Linked DNA regions of Homo sapiens: region 1 is linked to region 2. Evidence: fine-mapped QTL for protein levels in blood plasma. A gene starts in region 2. The other region holds a variant in brackets. All regions are shown on one strand. Distances are between the middles of the regions. Region 1 overlaps ROBO2 (roundabout guidance receptor 2). Region 2 holds the start of ROBO2 (roundabout guidance receptor 2).

Evidence for each region. PIP is the chance, under the fine-mapping model, that this variant and not a neighbour inherited with it causes the effect. The UK Biobank Pharma Proteomics Project read protein levels with antibody pairs (Olink). The fine-mapping took linkage between variants from a reference panel, not from the people measured, so its PIPs are less certain.
Region 1: its variant is fine-mapped to the plasma level of the ROBO2 protein (UK Biobank, PIP 0.97).

Annotation. Positions count from the first base shown.
Region 1 is chr3:77,620,810-77,623,722 of GRCh38, reverse strand. ROBO2 (roundabout guidance receptor 2) reads right to left here. Exons shown (of 28, transcript NM_001395656.1): 24 at 1,291-1,496. Among named protein-coding and RNA genes, the nearest start is that of LINC02077, 430 kb to the left of the region's middle. The variant G/T (reference allele first, on the strand shown) is at 1,153.
Region 2 is chr3:77,038,405-77,041,317 of GRCh38, reverse strand. ROBO2 (roundabout guidance receptor 2) reads right to left here and starts at 1,219. Exons shown (of 28, transcript NM_001395656.1): 1 at 472-1,219. The coding sequence starts at 532.

The DNA.
Region 1 (2,913 bases), 580 kb before region 2:
CTTAACATAATAGTGCACTAATAAGTCAGCTCTCTGCATTTGAAGATTTTAACTTGTGCTCTGTCACCTTCGGTTGGATCTGGATTTCAAATCACAGCGGTGTATCTGCAGCTCTTAAATCTTAATTAGGCTGGCAAGCAGACCAGCCCCTGGATAAGAAGAAAAACTGAAAAATGGGCTCATGCATCACACATTGAGTAATTCAGGGAGGAATACAGAGGAAAATCATAGGCGCTGATGCTGCTTTATCCTGTCATAAACCAGTTCCCATCAGTGTTTGTAGAACTCTAACACATTGTGTAAAATCTGTGAAAGTTTGGAAGCTGTTGGCATAAAAATGAATTAAGCGGGATTGTGGTAAAATATCTCCTAGGATGAAAGATGTCATCACGGTAAATACAGATATGAGTGGTCTTCTGAGAAGACCCAGTGAAATGCAGAGACCAGACTTCAGTTTGTAGTAGCTCGGTCTACACAGTCATGTAAGAGGCATTTTCTTGTGTGTCCAACAGTGTATATCTATTTGAATAGAAAGACTGAATTTTTAGTTTTCTCCAAATTCATTGTGTCCATTTTAGGATTTAAAGTTTTCTTTAAAAAAATTGGTACATTTAAATCCCTGAAAATAGGTTATACCTTAGTCCTGGGATCATCATAGAAGAGTACCAATGCAACTCTTTCGTTTGATGAACAAGGCAAGAGGAAGCCAAAGAAATAAACAGAAAAAATAACTGCATTTCTTGGAAGAGAAGCATTTACTAGATGCAGCAATGTGAAATGCATAAACATATGGTTTATCTCACTACACATTTTCTTCATTCTAAAAATAATACCTTGTGCAACCTTAAAGTGGCTTATTCAGGAGACGTGCTTACTTTCCATCAGTGAATGATTTTACAGAGTGAAATATCAAGAAGCATTTTAAGATTGCATTCACTTCATATGTTATTCCTGATATATATAAAAAAGATCATTTCTAAAAGTCAAGGTTTTTAATGTAATAGACTTGGTTTCCTAGTAGAGTGAACTTCTCATGAAAGCCCTAGATATAATTGAGTTTTCTTTCATGTCTTTAAAGCTTTTTAAAATTCATGAATTTTCTTATCATTTTTGCAGCAAAGCAAAAGTATTTCCAAATCCTTTTTGAATTTT[G/T]TATTTAATATTAACACATTTAAAATGTTACAGAAATAGATGGAGTGGAATAAATCTTACAATAAGGAAGTAGTTGACTTTTGATGCATTTTAATGTTACCAATAGGTCAGTTTTTCCTATTAAATTGGTTCCGTTACCTGTCACAGAGCTGTCTAGATTGTCCATGCTGGATCCAGGAGTCTGGTCCAGTGCTCTCAGGGGCCTGGGGATTTCTAAAGCTTCCTCTTCGTCGTCGGCATCATCATCTGCAACATCCGTTTCCAAATCAGAAATCAAGGCTCCAGACACATAACCTAACGGTGGAACTGGAGGCTGTGGAGGTTGATTATTGCTTTGAATGTGCCTAGAATTCAAATGAAATTTAAAAAAGAAAAGCAACTTATTAACATGCAACAAAATCATAATTTTAATTAAATGCATGCTATAGTAACTCATACTGTCTTCTTCCTTTCCATTAACTAATTTAGGAGTTCATAATGCTTTCAGCAGAAACAATGGCTACGAATACGAGCCTCACCAAACAAGGAAAACATAAACCATTAAACTCTTCACTTGGTATTTATAGGATAACACACGGAGAAAAAAAAATACGGGCCCAGTATTTTTGTGAAAAGAAGTTATCTAGAGGGGACTAGGAATATTCGCCACGAGTAACTATTTAAAGTGAATATTTTTCTCCAAAAATATTATACTTTTGTTCTCAGTTTAGTGTCAAAATTCTACTCAGTCTGTGTAACCCATGCTGCCTGCTGGCCCTTATGAAGAAAAGATGTCACATGAGGACCTAATATCCCCTACCTCCCAACCCTGAACACATTTCCCACCCTAGAAGGCTTCCTCCCCACACGATCTCTCTCACATCAAGGCTGGAAGGCTATTTCCACTTTCACTATAACCCAGTTTAGGGTAGGCACAACTAATTTGTGCTCTAGTAGCTATTTATGTATCTGTCTCACCCAACAAAGTCTTAAACTCCTCAAAGGCATAAACAATTCATCTAAGGATTCTCTGTGTTTGGAACACTAGTGTGTTAAATAAACCTTTTGCAATGAATAAATAATTCTAATCTCAACCTTATGAAATAAATAGATCATGCATTATCAACCCTCATTTATTTATTTATTTATTTATTTAATTTTTTGGAGAGAAGGGGTCTTGTTCTGCCACCCAGGATGGAGTGCAGTGATGCGATCATGGCTCACTACAGCCCTGACTTCCCAGGCGTAAGCGATCCTCCTGCCTTGGTCTCCCAAGTAGCTGGCATTACAGGTGTGCTTCACCATGCCCAATTAGTTTTTAAATGTTTTGTAGAGTGGGATTCTCACTATGTTGTCTAGGTTGGTCTGAAACTCCTGGGCTTAAGCAAGCGTCCTGCCTCAGCAACCCAAAGTGCTGGGATTACAGGCATGAGCTATCATGCTTGGCCCAACCTTCTTTAGAATTTATTAAAGTGAAGGTCAAATTTAAGTGACTTGTTTCAAATCAGGTAGCTAACAAAGTGTGAAGCTGGGCAGTAGGGTCCAGTTGATTTGCTTTGAGTCTACTCAGATTTTCTTCTAAACCATAAAATGCTAAATGAAATGAATTTATTGTTATTTGTTACCAGCATTAAAAAGTGAGTGTACTACATGTTTTAACATAGTAAGTATTTTCTTTGCCTTCATATAAAAGGTATTTAAAAGGCTGTGCTATTTAGGTGAGATCTTAAAAAGTACTATGCATTTTTATTGTTGGCTGGTGAATGAAAGACATTAGATTAC
Region 2 (2,913 bases):
ACAGGTGATACACATTGATCTCAGTCTCAAATTCCTAACCCACTGAACCTTCCTTAGAGTGTCTATTACTGTATTTCTTCACTTGAATGTCTCAGCCAAAGTTCAGACACAAGAGCAAACATCAAATAGAGAGCAGGCACAATAGTATTAGGCTCTTGCAGGAGATTGACTGTAATATTTCTTTTTCTAACAAAACTGGGAGCCCAATCATTTATTATCCAACTCCTTAATTAGTGAAGTAAATTACAACAATAACAACAATAGGTGACTACCAACACATTCCACTTACAGCAGTTTAGAAACAAAAGACTTAAATAAAACCTCTGCCCCCAAGGAGCCCGTGCCGGGCCAAAACGGACTAACAGACATAATGTCATTTCATTTATAACCCACATCAAATTCAAAAAGAAATGGTTTTGGGGGATTGGGGGGTGGGGGGCGCAAAAAAAGATGAAAGCATTTTTAACTTACCATCAACCCGAACATATAAAAATCCACAGAGCAGTAGTTGTGTAAACATCAGCAGACTCATTTTGACATATTAAAAAGGATCCAGATTCTTTAAGAAACCAATCCCAGAGAGCAAAAGTACAAAAATGAGTATCAAAAAAAGAGGTAGGTCCAAAGTTTAGACTTTCCTAGATACTAATTAAAGTCAAGAAGAGCAAATCGCAAGATCAGAAGGGGTTGGTGGAGAGGTCTCGAACGGGGCACACTGAGATCCATCCAAATTAACAGAGGGTACTTCAAAGGCTGCTGTATTTCCAGCACTCTGGCTTCCTAAATTCCCACAAATTCAGCCCAGCCAGAGGGATTATTCGAGTGTGTCTAACCCTCTCTCCTTAGGCTCCACTGCAATCCAAAGCCAAGTTCTTCCTTCAGAAGTCAAGATGATGAAGGGGGAGGAAAAGACCTAATTCCTAGAAAGTGTTCCACAAACTTGCCAGCGCGCTGCCGAAAAACCATTGGCCTGCCTACTGGTTTTCTTTCCCCCGGTTTCCTTCTCCGTAGCAGCTCCACGTCCGGAGTTATTTTTTAATATGTCTATATTTTTACTTAACTTCCATAATAAGAATGTGTCAAAGCAACACTTTGCAGGCGGGCAGACTTGGCGGGCCTCTCCTTTGCAGCGGTGTTGCCCTCCCTCCACCTCTCCGGTTTCCAAAAGAGAGGAGAAGGGAAATCAGGACGATTCGGGTGGAGAATCCGAACTCCTACGTGGTGAGGGAGGCAGGGAAGGAGCGAGGGAGGGAGGGAGGGAGGGAGGGGCCGGGCGGAGGCCGAGGCTGCAGACACCCCCGCGGTGCCGCCTCTGAGGATAGTGCACCAGGCGGCTGCGGGCGCGAGCAGAGACGGGCGTGAGAGCCCAGCCCGGGCGCGGCGGAGAAAGGGAGCGCTCAGTCCAGCGCCAGGCGCGCTGAGGCCCCTCGCCCGGGTCCAGCCCCCGCAGCCTCGCAGCAGAGCGTCCGCTTCCTCCGGCAGCTGCCGCGGGTGGAAGGACTTCTAGGAGGGAAGGCGAGGAGGCGGGAGGGGAGGGGAGGAATGAGAGCTGCCTGGAGTCGGCCCGGGGAGGGGCGGGGGCGAGGAGGGGCGCGCGGAGCCCTGAACCTCCGGACTCGGCCACCCGCCCGCTGGGGAGTGGGGAGGGGTCCTGGAGAGCCGAGAGTCCCCGGGGGGACGGAGATGAACAAATTCGGAGAGCCCCGCCGGCTGCCGAGGGCCGAGGCCACCGGGCGACTCCTTCCCCTTCTCCGCGCCCCCGGGTGCCCACTCCTTCCCGCCTCGGGAGGGGATAGGTGGGCTCCAGGCTCCTGCTCCTCGCCGCGTCCCGTTTAATGGGCAGGTAATTTTCTCCGTGAGTGATTTCATGGAAGCCCTTCCTAATTATTCATCCCTCCGTCTGCCGGAGCTGCACGCGCTTTCTTGAAAAAGATCAGCCTCCAGGACCCAGGGCGCAGCCTCATTACGCGTTAAAATCACACACTCACTCACTCTTCACCTTTTAGCCAGATGAGAAGCCGAGTAGGAGGAAGGAAAGGAAAGGAAAGGAAATAGAAGCACCTTTTGGACTGGAAAGGTTGTGTGTAGATGCTTCCTATATGATTCAAAAGCACAAGGGGGAGAAAAAGGAGGGGGCAGAATTCTCTAACCTCCAGCGGCTCATTTTAGCCAAGATCTATGGCCCCCTGCGGCATCCCCAAGGGAAGGAGGAAGGGGAGGCAGCCCCTCTTATGTTACTCAGTTGCCTTTTGACCCCTCCACGATGAGTTTGATGCGCGATCGCGCAGGGCGAGGGAGTTCCACAGAAGATGCTAAGGACGGGGAAGCGGGGATCACAGAGCTTGGGGGAGGGGGATCCCCGAAGTCTTTACCCTCCAGGGACCAGCACCTCCAGAAGGAAATTCGGTAAACATAGGCTCTGGGTGTGGAAAGCCGAAAGCCCAGCTGAGCTCATGGAAGCTCAAAAAGAAGCCGAATTTCAGCCCAAAGACGACAAAACTCTGAAAATTAAGACCAAGACTACCAAAGGATGCCATTCAGGACCGGGGATGATGAAGGAAGGTCACGTTAGATCAAAGGGGTGCCGGTGTCGGCGGTGCCCCGGTGCGGCCGGGCCCACGTGTGATCACAGGCTCGCTGGTAGCCGTTTGATGCTTGTTCAGATGATGAGAAGGCGGCTTATAGGAACTCACGCAGGTCCCCGAGCCGAGCTAAATGCTGGATGGTGAGTCTTTAGTTCCCCCTACTGGAAAATATTAGGAAAGGTTCTCTCCAGAAGGGGCCGTCTGAGGAAGAGCCTTTGTTTGGTGGATACGTTTTGGTGCTGCTACTTAACTTAGGTCTCCCTTGCATATTATGGGCGCTGTGTGTTCTTTTAAAAAAAGGTCAGCGACATTCAAGCAATTAGAAGAG